2 linked regions of the Homo sapiens genome follow. The protein of the gene in region 2 interacts with the protein of the main gene of each other region in a biochemical or structural test. Each region holds a gene or a part of one and is shown on either strand. Other genes may lie near its edges.

The links. Proteins that work in one complex are often made in the same cells at the same time.
Region 1: the proteins of PATJ (region 2) and PKP4 interact in a test that uses a peptide from one of them, tested with the Homo sapiens proteins (2 studies listed by IntAct, with this or other methods).

The regions. Positions count from the first base shown.
Region 1 is NC_000002.12:158,451,916-158,459,958, forward strand, and holds the start of PKP4 (plakophilin-4), read left to right. Parts: upstream 1-5,036; 5' UTR 5,037-5,215; coding exon of another isoform or gene 5,216-5,539; exon of another isoform or gene 5,540-6,392; intron 6,393-8,043. Other genes in the region: CCDC148 (coiled-coil domain-containing protein 148), read right to left, coding at 4,500-4,524; uncharacterized protein LOC124907900, read right to left, coding at 5,216-5,539. UniProt on the Homo sapiens protein: Plays a role as a regulator of Rho activity during cytokinesis. May play a role in junctional plaques.
Region 2 is NC_000001.11:61,759,439-61,766,496, forward strand, and holds part of PATJ (inaD-like protein), read left to right. Parts: intron 1-3,419; 5' UTR 3,420-3,454; coding exon 3,455-3,476; intron 3,477-3,574; coding exon 3,575-3,741; intron 3,742-6,840; coding exon 6,841-7,035; intron 7,036-7,058.

The DNA.
Region 1 (8,043 bases), on a different chromosome or scaffold from region 2:
TAAAGGCAAACAAGGAAAAGAATGGAGTAGGGATGATCACAGGAAACAAAAATCTCACAAAACAAAAAGAAAATGAAGTTTATTTAAGTATGACCTTATGAGGAGAATAGTGTAAAGAAGGAAAAACACTTTTCCTCTATCCTCTTACCTTCAATGTCTGAGAATTAAACTGATAAAAGACAGACTGACAAGAGAAAAAACATTTAATTACATATGTACACAAAGCCTTCACAAATAAATGTGACTCAAGGAGGCAATTAGAATTTTTGACCTATACCATCGTAACAGAAGTGATTAAGTGTGAAGAGGCTACACAAAGGAAAGGGGGTATGGGGCTTCCTGTGGAGAACAGGGGTGAGGGGGGAAGTTAGGAAAGGTGCTAGGAAACGTATGATAAATAAGGGTTGTCTAGTAAGGTGTGTTATATGCATAAGCGTCCTCAAGAGATATTTCCAAGTAGATCCTTTCCTGGTAGTAGAGAGGCAGACAACTTTATAAATGGAAATTTATGGCCTACTCTTAGACAGAAAAGCAGGAGGGAAAAAGAGTTTTTCTTGTATCTGCTATTTCTCAATTGCTTTCAGCTCAAAATATTCCTTATGCCAAAATGGCACATTTTGGGGTAGGCATATTGTGGTCCCTTCAATAGGAACCCAGAAAACATCAGGACCAAGACAGCTGCTCTCTCTGGTTCTCTTGTTCTCTTAATTTCAAATTCCCTGGAAAATAATCTGATTGGCATCATTACCAGTTAGGGGTCAATGGTTAGGCAGTGGATTGGCTACATGGCTCAGGTCTCCCCACAGGGGCTGATGCCTTGCCAGGTGCATTGTTATGAGGTGTGCAGGGCTGCCTCCTTCAAGGGCTGTGGATATACGTACTAGGAAGCATTTCTATTACACATACCAGATGTTTGACACCATTCTGATTTTATGAAGTTGTTAAAATCTCATGACCCCACTGTTTTCCAAGAGACAGGACAACCTAGAAGTTTCACATACCAAAAAATGTAACCCTTAACTTGCTTAGCAAAGCTGAGTTTCAAAACCTCTATTCTGCTCTATCATACTTTATCTGATTTTTCCACATTGTACAGCTAATCCCAACTTTTCCTAATTCTCTCCCAACATCCTGATTCCAATTTTTTATTGTTCAAAGTCAAGTTCTTCCAAGAACTAAACAAAGGACTAATAAATATTGGCTTTTCTTAGTGTGGGAGGTGCTTCAGCAGTTTAAGGCAGTGAGGGACACAATCATGATCATGATGTGGATCCTATCCCTTAGGGGAAAAGGCTCACACAAAAATAACCACACCATTTGATATAGAGTGTCAAGGGTCACAATACAGTAAGGAAGAACTCACCCTCTCAAGAAGGGGGAAGGCCAGGAAACTTTCAGAAAGTTTTTACAGGTAATCATTAGGCAGAGCCATGGGAGGATTTGTATAATATATTCAGAGGATGGGGATGGGGTGGGGCTCAGCCAATCCTGAAACCACCAGAGCCACCTGAGCGGAACTATTATTAAGCCCTAGCAACCCTTCTCAGGCCCCGCTTATTCCATTACTCTCTTTCCCTCCTTTGCCACCCACCTCTGTTTTAACATTCCTCTTTAAAAAGAAAACCCCAAAATTATCAGTATTGGCGTACTTTTTGAAGATTTTATCTTCACCTCCCCCACTCCTCCATAGACACCCAGGTATGACAAGAGACTCAGTGCTCCTGCTTCCTCCTATTCCTTGCTGCCTCTGCTATGCTTCTTAGGGAATTTACCACTAATCTTTAGGGGATAATATGAAAAAAATAAACATTGGAAAGTTACAAAGTTTTCGTAATCTTAAAAGTTTCAGGTAGACTTCTTTCTGAGCTGGTAATTGAAAAGTTGTTTGGATTTCTGCTGTTTACTTTCGTTCTTGAGGGTGGAGTCACCAGACCTCCTAATATTCTAACCTTGCCCTGGGCCCCAGTGTCAGCCTGAGCACAGGCCCTCTCCCCACCCCTACTTTCCAGCACTTTTCCCAAGGTGGCCAGGCTAGCAGTTTAAATCATCCTCTTCTCAAGCCAGTCATTTGCATTTCTGTGGATCCTCAGGCTAGGTAACAGTGGTTTCATTCCTTCACTGGAAATCTGGAATTGGGCCATTCCAACTTGGAGGCAAAGGACATTTTTGTAGGAGAGAACTTAATTGGCAAAATAAGCTAGGATTTTGAGGACAAAGAGCACAATCTTCAAAATCATTTCAGTGGTATTCAAGGGCCAAAACATTGGCAACAAAGTAGAAACCTCAAGAAATTCCCTTCAGACAGTTTCTTGGTGAAAAGAAAGGCCAATAGATAGAGATGGTGGTAGGGTAGAAGGAAGGTGGTTTTACCAAAAGCCAGATATTTGGAAGGCTTAGGAAAAATCTTTGGAGGAGAGGGTGTAACACATCATGTAAGAGAGAAATTATAATCAATAGAGCAAAATCCTGGTAGAGAGAAGATGGCTCATGTTTAGGAGCATAAGTGGAGTATGAGCCTTGAAGAGAAATGTGGTCACCCTTCTCAGCCATGACTGAAGGAGGTGAAGATGTGTGAAAACTAGGACTGAGGTTTAAGAAAGTTAAGTTGAGGAACCTCATGGTGGATCCTTCAGTAGAGTACGAGGCAAGATCATTTGCAGAAGTGCAGGAAAACCACGTAAAGTGGGGGCTTCAGGAGAGCAGACATTGGACAGGTTTGGAAGTGGCCTGGATAATGTTCCTGGATAAGTGTTCCAGATAATCATCCTCCTGATGAGGAAAGGAACTGAGAATCAGTGAAGACACAGCCAAGTCTGAATAGCATGAACTTTTAGTGGAATGAAGTGATTCTTTAACCTTGTCTAGCAATGCTTAGTAGCGCAGGAGCAAGTTCAAAAGAAACCTTTCAACTAAATACAAAAATAAACAAAAAAATTAATGTTGAGTGGCAACTTATTTCAGGGGACATTATTCATGGTGGATTTCAGTAACATTTTAATTATGACAAACACGAAATCTACAATATCAAAATAGTCATCTGAGAAAAACACCCACACAAAAAGATTATTGGAGTAATAATCTTTTATTTTCTTCTTTCTATGCTAGCCTAAGGCAAGAGAAAAGACCCATTTTTTCTTTCCATTAGACACAACTTTCATTCATTTGATGTTATTGAAATTTAAAAGAAGCAAAATCATTGGTATCTTTTCATTAAACATGTGTCTCATATAACAATTTGTGGTTTACTTTTTCTGTTCTATAAACAAAAACACACATTAAAAAGCCGGAAGAAGTAAAAAACAGCCTATTTCCATGATGGCCAGCCATGGCACAGCACTTCCTGGCCCCTGCTGATCCCTTCTCAATTCTGAAAATATTTAGGGGGAACATACACACGTTCACCTGTTTTGTTCCACAGTCCTACCCTGTGTAGGACTGTCAACTGAGTTCACATTTTACTACAAATGTGGAGAGGTTTTTTTTTTTCCAATCAAGGCACCATATTAACATTTCTTAGGTTACATCTTTGTAATCTTCAATTATAGTAAGATAAAAACCAGTAGCAAAGCATATCACCCAACTTAAAATTCAGAACAATACTTAGACATATGCAGCTTGCACACACATTAACCTGTTTCTCCCAACAAAATATTTGTAATTTCCAAAATCCTATCAGCTTTTTCACACAATATGGTCCCTCCAATTTGAGGGGTAGTAACATAGTCTCCTTACTAAAGAGATTAGTCTAAAAAAAGTAAAATCGCCAAAAGAATGTAAGAATATCAGTGGCTATAGGCTAGAGCAATATCATCTTTTAAAGCCTAATATGTTCATGAAATCTCACTTTAAGAAGGTGATATCTAAACATAAAATTTATTGACAAAAAACAATTAGTATTGATAAACCACCACAAAATGATTTTAAATGAAAGTAGAAGACATTATTAAAGCTCAAGATTTTTGCGTGTACTGATTTCATGCCTCAGGTTATTTCCATATCAAATTTAAAGAGATACTGGAAAATAGAAAACAAAATCCATCAACTGTAATCCATTTCCCTTACTCTTTTGTGAAATCATCACAAGGTGTGAAGGATTGTTTCTGTTTCCTCTATCTTTAACAAGCCTGTAACCTCTCAAGTGAAAGAACATGCACCTGTCAAGCTCATAGTGCGGGATGTACACACAGATGTGTTTAATAAATATCTGCCCACAGGGAGATTAGAGGTTTGCTTTGAGAATCAGGGAACAGGCTAGCTCATGTGTTGACGCTTTGGCATCTATCATACAATCCGCCACCTCGTTCCCTTACCAAAATATCCTCAAAGGAAATCCTCTTTGAGTCTTTCAGAAGAGTTATGAGTTTGAGGACCCAAAACGTTGAGGAAAGATCCACCCCAGGGAAGGGGGAGTGGCTGCAGAGAACAAACATAAGTAGGATTTAGGTGGCTCAGTGACGTCAGGAGGAAGCAGCGATGGAAGGGATGGGGTGCAAACTCACCTGGAGAAGCAGAAGCTGCACACATGTCAAAGGTCAAAGGGCATAGCCTCAGGGACTCCCCAAACGCAGGAAAAGTGAAACGCCCACTCCTGGGCTCTCGCCGTCAGGGGTACATCTAAGGGCTCAGCTGTTCCTACCTTTGACGCCAGGGACAAACCCTACCAGGCACAGTTGGGATTGGCAGTAAGGCAAGGAAAGCCTGCCCCAGATTTCAGAGCCAGCGCTGGGGAATCTCCCTGTCCTCTCCGCCACCCCCTCCCGCGCCCGAGACCTGAGACACCTTCTCTCTCACACCCACCCTCTCCAGGCCCTCTCGCGCTGAACAGCATCGGTCTCTATGGCGACCTGAAACCGCAGCTCCCATTGGCCTGTTCAATATGAGGGCCGGGCCAATGGGGAGGGCCAGCCCTCTCCTTCCCGCCAATGGGGTGGCGGGAGCTGGCCCGGGGACGGCGGCGTGCTGACGTTCCCGGGAGCCCGGGGCTGGCCGGGCGGGAGGGCTGGCAGCGGGGCGGGCGGCGGCGGCGGCCTCTGGGCAGTAGAGGGGGCTCCGGGGCTGAGTCCGCGTCGACGCCGGCCGCGGAGGCGGCACCATGGGCAAGGGGTAGAGGGGCAAGTTGGCCACCGCCGCCGCCGGGGGTGGTGGGAGAGCCGCTCCGGGGGCGGGGGCCGGTGGGGGAGGGAGGGGCGGGCAGCCGCGCCGCCGCGGCACTTTTTTAATTTTTTCGGGTGCCGCAGCGGCGACCCCTCGGCGCCGATGTCCCTGATCCCTGGAGCGACGACGGCCGCTGCCTAAGCTGGAAAGTAAGTGTGTGGGCTCGCGGGAGGGCGCGGAGACTCCTGCCCACGAGACCCTCGGCCCTCGCCCCGAACACGCGCCAGGGCCAGGACCTGCGCGCCGGGGGCCGGGGGCCTCCCTCCCGCTGCCGCGTCCCCAGCGCCTCGCGGCCGCCGCGGCTTTCCTGCCCCGCCTCGTGTTCCTGCCCGCACTCGCCTGCTGCTCCCCTCCCCCCGGCAGGCGCACAAGTTTCACCCTCCATTTGCTTTTCCCGGCGATTCCTCTCCCCGGTCTCCCGTACGCGCAGCGCACGACCTCTGCCCACGCTGGGCTGTTCGGATTCAGAGCTCCCAGCCCCGAACTTGAGCGCCGCGCTGAGCCCTGCTGGACGCCCTCGCGGCGGCTTCCCCGCTGCCTGCCGCCGCGCGCCCCAAGTCGCCCTCGACACCACTGGGCGCCCGCCCTCCTCAGCACTCGGGGCCGGCTGTCTGTCCTTCTAGCCCCAGATCCTGCACCTTGGTCCCCTCCCCGTCTTCCCACGCCCCTGCTGCCCGCGCGGTCTTGCGTTTGTCCCCGAAGTCCTGTACTCCTTGCCGGTCCTGCCCACCCCTCTGCCTAGTGCGCCCCTCTCTACCGGCCGCGGATCCTCACGCTCCACCCCTCCCGGCTCCCCAGCGCCGAGCCTCGCCGCTGCCCTCCTGCGCCGCCGCTTCCTCCTCTCCCTGCCAGGAGTTGAAGCGGAGCTGCGGCACCTCCCTGGCGGATCTGGTATCCCCGCCCGCTGCCGAGGCTGCCGGCCCTCTCCCCTGGACCGCTACCCGGAGAGCGAGCGGCGGGGCCGGGATTTGGCTGCGTGTTGGCTGAGTGCGACACACCGCGAGCGCGGGCAGTGGAGGTGCCGCGGCGGCCGTGGCCGCTCGGGGCGCAGCGGTAGTCAGGTGTGTGTGTACAGCGGGGGACGCGCGCTGCCGGCTCCTGGGCTGGCGACAGATTGTGCAGGAATGCGAGGAATGCACCAGGGGCAGAGTCCACACAGCCCGCCGCGGCTGCCCTAGCGCCTTCCCTCCCCAGCTCTCGCCGCGCAGCCAGAGGTCACCGGAGCATCTTCGGAGCTGGTGAGCCTCATTCCACTCCTCTCCTCCCATAGCTTCCCTCCATGCGGCAGAGGGGAAGCGCGGTAATTCTTTGGGGCTCCAGCTAGCCTTTCGTCTGGGTTTTTGCTGCATTGGTCTTCAGGACCGTGAATTTGGGGCCGATGACTGTGTAGCCAAGGTTATTGATCATTGCACAGGGCTGTTGGCAAGTTTGGTGTGCAAGGTTTGGATAGTGCCTGGTTTTCACTAGGGTTTTCTGAAAACCAGCAGAAACAGGGGGCCTGAAGGTTGTTAGAGTAATGAGCTTGCAGCCAACATATTTTAGCTCTATCAAAAAATGCCTGTTAGTGCTCACGGGCATGTACTGCGAGAGAGATCTTGAATGCATCACTTTGGTATCCTAAGAAGTGTAATTTTTTTCCCTCGTCATACTGGGCTGTGTTTAGACCTCGTATAATACATAATGAATAGAAACAGAGAAGCACTGTTCGGTCAGCGATGGGACAGATAGAACTGTCTGGTACAGTTAAATTCGGGACGTGTCAGTTACCATTGAAAGTAACACGGGGACACCACAATCATGTATATTTCAAGATGTAATTTATTAGTGGAGGTCTCAGTTTTTTCTCTTTGTTACTGAGTTTGACTGAAAAAAAAAAATAAATGCTGCCCTACAAGTTTTAAAGAACGGTAATTATTTACGTGTAAAATCAATGATGGCTAGTATGCATTTTTGGTCAAATTTTGTTTTCCTTAATACGGGAGAGCAAAATTTTGACAGAAAATGGTTCGCTAGAATTGAGCTTAGATTCTTTTTATTTTTAAAGAGAAACTAGAAGAATGCTTCTCTTCTTGAATGCAGTATATTGCTGTAGGAGTATCTTCGTTTTGGTGCCTGTGAAACAGTTATGGAAAATGGCAACATGAAAACGAGAACAACTAATGTCTGAAATAAGTGTTTCTGGGTGTTGAAAAGCATCATATGTGTGTTTTTATTTGACACAATTTGCTTTGCAGGTTGCATTTATGATAAACCTCTTTGCACCTGGTTATTTTATGTCAGATTCAGTAAAATAATAAGTCAGTTGTCTGACCAATCAGCTTTCTTCCAACACCTACTTTGTGTAGATCATGGACATTGAAAACTATTAAATAGGAGCCTTTAGTTAAGGACTCAACAGAAAGGAAAAAAAATAGAAAAAAATATTTTGCACTCAGAAACGTTTATGTTTTGGTTGCTACGTTGTTTTTCAGCTATGTGCATAATCAGTGAATCTTCTAATTTAGAGGTTTAATTTGTGTCCAGTAACACTGTGGAGGATATTGGGAGGTGTTTGTAAATGCCAACAGGAAACTTTTATTATGTAACAGTATCATATTACAGCAGTGTTTAACCCATGCTTAACCCGTGCTTTTTTGACTTGATGTCAAGATTGGGAAGTAAAAGCAAATTTAGTTTCCCTGCCGCATTAGAAATTGAAAACCCTGTTCAGATGTATGGATCACACACACACACACACACACACGACACACACACACACGATTGGCTGTGCAGATAGTTTTGCCTGCTTCAGGTAAAGGTAACCTTTCAGTTAGAAATGCTTTCTATTTGTTACAGATATTCAAAGAGTGGAAGTTTTTCAACTAGTGATCCTACACAATTGAAAATAAC
Region 2 (7,058 bases):
TTGCTTTGTCACCCAGGCTGGAGTGCAGTGGCACGATCCCGGCTCACTGAAACCTCCACCTCCTGCGTTCAAGTGATTCTCTTGCCTCAGCCTCCCAAGTAGCTGGGATTATAGGCGTCTGCCACCACGCCCAGCAAATTTTTGTGTTTTTAGTACACAAGGTTTCACCATGTTGTTCAGGCTGGTCTCGAGCTCCTGACCTCAAGTGATCCGCCTACCTTGGCCTCCCAAAGTGGTGGGATTACTGGCGTGAGCCACAGCGCCCGGGCTGATCGCTTTTGATAATTTACTTTTTCCAGGAGTTTTGCTATTAAAAATGTGGTAAATACCCTTGCACACACATCTTTGTCCCCCTTTGCCAGTTTTTCTTTCAGAGTGACACTCAGAAGTAAAAATTGTACACTCTTAGGACAACTTAGCAGTGTCAGTATACATTGTGTAAATTTTTATTTCCACCTATTTTTTCATGACATTTGGAGTATAAACTATTATTAATCTCTAATAAATCAATAAATGTCAGTTGAGATTTGGCAGTAAAAAAATGTCATCTTATTGTTTTAGTTTGCATTCTTCGATTTAGAGAGGTTGATGTGTTAATGACCAGCAGGCCGCTCTTGTCAATCCTGTTGGGCTGTATGCTGCTATATGAGAGTACAGTGCTGTCATGACTGCCCTTTTGTTATTCACAGTTACCTGTCACTGGGTAGTTGTAAGAGTTGTACAGTTGAGATGCTGAGCACATCAGAAGTGTTTTTTTGATGCTCTATTCAGCACTTCTTTTGGTATTCCCATTGAATCCAGTGAACATTTGGATGGAATACTTAGACCTTTTATCAATGTCAATGGCATCCGTTATTGGTTTTCAATATGTTTTTTTGCTTAATGATCTTGAATTAGAAGATAAAGATGTCATTCAGCCACCATATCCAGGTTGATGTAAGAAAATTTTGATTGTATAATACTTGTATTTCTTTGATGGTTCATTACAAGTGTGTATCACTAGTAAAAATGATCACTGAAAATGTCTCATTTTGGTCATAGCAAAGGGTTTTGCTAGCCTTTTGAGTTTTTAATTACGTTACATTTTAGATTAATTTCATCAAATCACTGGAATTAAGAAAACATTATCCATAGAGAATGCCACTTTGAGTGGTTTCTTTTTTCTTTTCTTTTTCTTTTTCTTTTTTTTTTTTTTTGAGACAGAGTCTGGCTTTATTGCCTAGGCTGGAGTGCAGTGGCATGAGCTCAGCTCACTGCAACCTCCACCTCCCAGGTTCAAGCAATTCTCCTGCCTCAGCCTCCCGAGTAGCTGGAATTATGGGTGAGTGCCACCACGCCTAATTTTTGTATTTTTATTAGAGACGGGGTTTCTCTGTGTTGGCCAGGCTGGTCTCGAATTCCTGACCTCAGGTGATCCACCCACCTCGATCTCTCCAAGTGTGGGATTACAGGTGTGAGCCGTGGCGCCCAGCCTGGGTGGTTTCTTTCAAGCTGTAGATGACTAGTAAGAGTCTGAGATCATTTGTACAGCTTGGGAATTTTTCTTTTATTTTTTGTTGAGATGGGGTCTCCCTTTGTCACCCAGGCTGGAGTGCAGTGGCATGATCATGGCTCACTGTAACCTCAACCTCCTGGGCTCAAGCGATCCTCTCACCTCAGTCTCCAGTGTAGCTGGGATTACAGGTACAAGCCACCACACCAGCTAATTTTTTTGTTTTTGTAGAGATGAGGTTTCACTTTGTTGCACAGGCTGGTCTCAAACTCCTGGATTCAAGTGATCCTTCTGCCTTGGCCTCCTAAAGTACTGGGATCACAGTGAGCCACTGCTCCTGGCCTGGTTCAATAAATTTTGATAAGTATATACATCTGTGTAAACCATACCCCCTTCAAGACACAATGTGTCCATCACTCCAAAAAAGCTTCCTTGAACCCCTTCCCAGTGTAGGGGAGGGAAAATAGCCTCTACCCTTCTAAGTTTTCGGTTGGGGCCCCTGTAATAAAGGGTAGATTAACAAGAGAAAAACATGTAAACTTGTTTAATATAAGTTTTATGTGACATGGGAGCCTTCATAAGGAAAGGAAGACCCGAAGAAACAGTAAAACCTGAGTGTTTTTAAATTAGGTTTGATGAAGAAGGAAGAGTTGTGGAATGTGATAGGACAGAAAGGGATATGAGCCAAGAGTAGTAAACAGGGAAAAACTTAACAAGGCCTGTTTGTTCATATTCCTCTGGGTGTTCCTCTATTTTTTTTTTTTTTAATTTTTGAGACAGGGTCTCACTCTGTTCCCCAGGCTGGAGTGCAGTGGCATGATCATAGCTCACTGCAGCCTCAACCTCTTGGGCTCAAGTGATCCTCCTGCCTCAGCCTCCTGAGCAGCTGGGACTATGGGTATGTGCCACCATGGGTGGCTGATTTTTGAATTTTTTTTGTAGAGATGGAATCTCACTGTGTTGCCCAGGCTGGCCTCAAACTCTGGGGCAGAAGTGATCCTCCTGCCTCGGCCTCCCAAAGTGCTGGGATTATAGGCATGAGTCAATGCGCCCGGCCACTCTGTCTTTTGAGATTAAGATGCTGCTATCTTCTGGGTATAGAGAGGACACCTCTCACATGAGGATCCTATGATCTGCTTCAGGGGAAGTCTTTTTTGCACCTGCTGTTTCTCAGATTCCTTCAACTTAAAATATTCAACAATGCCAAGGTGTCATATTTTGGGAGTAGCATGTTCTGAAGCCTGTCATAGTCAGTTCCCTATGACCCTGCCCCAGGTAAATTAATCTATAATTGTAGATTAGTTTTGTCAGTACTTGAACTTCATATGAATGTAATCATACAGTATGGTTTGTGCCTTTTTTGGGTCAGGTTTCTTTTTTTCCACATATCATTTTTGAGATTTATCCTTGTTGTGTGTATCAGTAATTTTTCCTTTTTATTTCTGAATATTATATACCATTTGTTTATTCATCTGTTACTAGACACTTGGGTTTTTCTAGTTTTGGGGTTTTTGTAAATAAAAATGCTGTAAACTTTCATGTGCAGGCGTTTTTGTGAGCATATATTTTCATGAATACTGAGTAAGTATTTGTGAGTGGAAGTGCTGGGTCATATAGTAAGTGTATTTTTAACTTTATAAGAAACTACCAATTTTCCGAAGTGGTTGTGATATTTTACGTTTCTCTTAGCAATGTACAATAATAGTTCCAGGCACTTCACAGCCTCGTTGAAACTTAGTGTTGTCTGTTTTTAAATTTTAGTTACCTTAGTGGGTGTGTAGTGGCACCTCATTGTGGTTATAATTTTGAATTTCACTGAGTGGAGCCTTGATAAAGAATGTTCTTGAGGTTTTCCTTAATTTTTCTACAGGATTGTAGCCATATACAATTGAAATTCATCTTTTATATTGTTAAATTTTTTCTTTAGGTGTCTTTAAGAGTGATTGAAGAGAATAATTCAAAATGCCTGAAAATCCTGCTACAGGTATACTGGATATATTGTTCTATAATTAAATTAATTATTTAAAAATGGAATCTCAAATGGGACTTAACTATTACTCTACTTATTCATCTTGACCCAAGATAAACTGCAGGTGCTGCAGGTACTTGATCGCCTGAAAATGAAATTGCAGGAGAAGGGTGACACGTCGCAGAATGAGAAGTTATCTATGTTTTATGAGACACTAAAGAGTCCTCTCTTCAACCAGATACTCACACTTCAGCAGTCCATCAAGCAACTGAAGGGTCAAGTAAGTTACCCATCAGAGTTTTACATTAATATATTATATTAATATATTCAAACCATCAAAGAAAGATAGAGGAGATAGACAAAGACAAATTATCTTTAAGGACTCAGTTCAGCAAAGAGACTGTATTGGGACCTGTAACCTATAACCTGTGGGTAGCATTGGCATAGATAATTTAGAAATATCAATAATCAATTTTTTCTTTGGTAACTGGATGTGGTGGCATGTACCGGTAGTCCCAGCAACTCAGGAGTCTGAGGTGGGAGGACTGCTTGAGCCCAGGAGTTCCAGGTTGCAGTGAGCTATGATCATGCCACTGCACTCCAGCCTGGATGGCAGAGTTGAGACCCTGTCTCAAAAAAAAAAAAAAAAATTGTGTTTGGTTTTAGAATATGGTTTTTGTACTTATTTAAGTATGTAAAGGTCAGATGCTTTGAGAATTCTCAACATCTTCAAAACTATAAAATAGTGCTTAACTTAAATATATTTTCTTTTTATTTTGAGACAAGGTTTCTCTCTGTCACTGAGGCGGGAGTGCAGTGCTGTGATCCTAGCTCACTGCAGCCTTGACCTCCCAGGCTCAAGCAATGTTCCCACCTCAGCTTCCAGAGTAGCTGGGATAGGTGTGTGCCACCACAGTTGGGCTAATTTTTAAAAATTTTATAGAGGCAGGGTCTCCCTATGTTGCCCAGGCTGGTCTCAAACTATTGGCCTCAAGCAGTCCTCCTACCTCAGCCTTCCAAAGTGCTGGGATTATAGGCATGAGCCACCTTGCCCAGGCGTATTTTCCTTATGAAGTCTTTTTTTGTGTGTGTGTGTGGTCTTTTTTTTTGTGTGTGTGTGTTATTATTATTATTTTTTTTAGTAGAGACGGGGTTTCACTGTGTTAGCCAGGATGGTCTGTATCTCCTGACCTTGTGATCCACCTGCCTCAGCCTCCCAAAGTGCTGGGATTATAGGCGTGAGCCACCTCGCCCGGCCGAAGTCTTTTATCTAACAAGAAGTGATCATGCCCTTATAGCACAATAGTCACACTTCTCTTAATTATCAAATATTTGTTGTCTTTCATGCGTATTCTGATTAGAAGTTCCTTGGAAGCAGAATACCTGGTATTTAAATATATAGTTATGTTTCTTCTACTCATTTACCACACTATCTGGATTCTTCAGGCTCTAATACATCATTATTGAATAAGGGACACATATCACCTCTTCTTAGAGGGGTGCAAATTAGCAGTTGTGGGATTTTTTTTTTTTTTTGGTGCTGAGATTGAACCAGAAATTAATTGTTTTAACTGTCCTCTTGGATTCTTTGTTTTGGGGTCAGGGATGGCAAATTACTTTTAAATCACCTATTCTGGAAGCTGAACTTGAATAGTAGCTATACCATAGATGAAATTTGGGCAGAATTTAAAACATAATTGGAGCTAATTTAGCACAGTTAAGTGAAAATTTACAAAATTTGGGAAAAAATGGTTTTTGCTGATAAACTAAAATGCTTGCCCATTAAGTATTTTGTGAGTGATTTGTTTATAGCCAATTAAGGATTAAATTCTACATGTGTCTTTCTGTGAATTGCTTTCTTTAGACCAGAATTTATACCCTAATTTTAGCACTGCCTATATTGATGTTTAGCTTTCTGTATTTCTCTTGGTCACAGAATATCACAATAGTGAATGCTGTTGGTAGCAACTGAAATTGGCAAAGATCAGCAGAAATCTATCACACTTGTTGGACTAAGAGTGGCTGTAACTACCCTATCCTAATAACAATTCTTTATATTTGTATAGTTTGGAGTTGTTATGTACACAGTCATATTTTATGCATTGGACTGTATAATCCCTGTAGCCAGGGGTTTTTTATTTTTTCTTTGAGGTTTTATTGACATTCATTTTTTTTTTTTTTTTTTTTTTTTTTTTTTTTTGAGGCAGAGTATTTGCCTGGGCTAGAGTACAGTGGTGTGATTATGGATCATTGTAGCCTCAACCTCCTGGGCTCAAGCAATCCTCCCACTTCATCCTCCCAAGTAGCTGGGCCTACAGGCATGTGACACCATGCCCAGCTAATTTTTGTATTTTTTGTTGAGACAAGAGTCTCACTATGTTGCCCAGGCTGGTCTTGAACTCCTGGCCCTGAAGCAGTCCTCCCACCTTGATCTCCCAAAGTGCTGGGATTACAGGTGTGAGCCATCACACCCGGCCTAACATTTATTCTGTTTTTTTTTTTGGAGACAGAGTCTTGCTCTGTCATCCAGGCTGAGTGCAGTGGTGCAATCTCGGCTCACTGTAGCCTCCACCTGCGGGATTCAAGCAATTCTCTTGCCTCAGCCTCCCAAGTACCTTGGAATTACAAGTGTGTACCACCATGCCCGGCTAATTTTTGTATTTTTGATAGCGATGGGGTTTCACCACTGACATTTATTCTTAATGTTACCTTTATTCTACTGTTTTGGCAGTTGTATCAGCCAATGATATTTTAAATTATGTCCACCATAATTACATGATTCTCCTCTTTCTATCAATGTTTAAGTGGCTCCGTGACTCACTGCTAATCTTGAGTAAGTTACTTAACCCCTGTGTGCCTCGGTTTTTAGGCTCACAAAATGGGATAATGATATCTCATTAGATTGTTGTAAGAATTAAATGATAATACCTGCAATCATGCTGGTATAGTACTTACTCATAGCAAGCACTCAATAAGTACAGTTATTATCATTATATACTACCTGTGGATCTTTTGTTGCTCCCCACGTGGAATTGTACAGATAAATGGAAAAAGGTTTAGTGCCTTACACTGTTATGTGACTGGATGCATCTGTATATGTGAAGTGTAAAAAGATGTCAGTGTACATGCTGTTAACTTGGACTAGTGGTAGAAGGCAGGAAATAAGAACAAATTTTAAGCTATTAAACATTTTGTGTAATACTAAATTTAAAAAATTTTTAGCCTTGTGAATACACAGATTTGATCTATCTTTACCTTATTTCTTTTCCATGTATATATTTAATGTGCAAAGTATCTATGTAATGGTCAAAATATATTTAATAAATAGAAACAATTTTTCTATAGATTTCTGTTGATTCTTTTTTTTTCTCTCCAACAGCTCAACCATATACCCTCAGATTGTTCAGCCAACTTTGATTTTTCTAGGAAAGGTTTGTTAGTGTTCACAGATGGTTCCATCACTAATGGAAATGTCCACAGGCCCTCTAATAACTCGACTGTATCTGGGTTATTTCCGTGGACCCCGAAGTTGGGAAATGAAGACTTTAACTCAGTCATTCAACAGATGGCTCAGGTAAAGTTGTATCTTCTCATGGA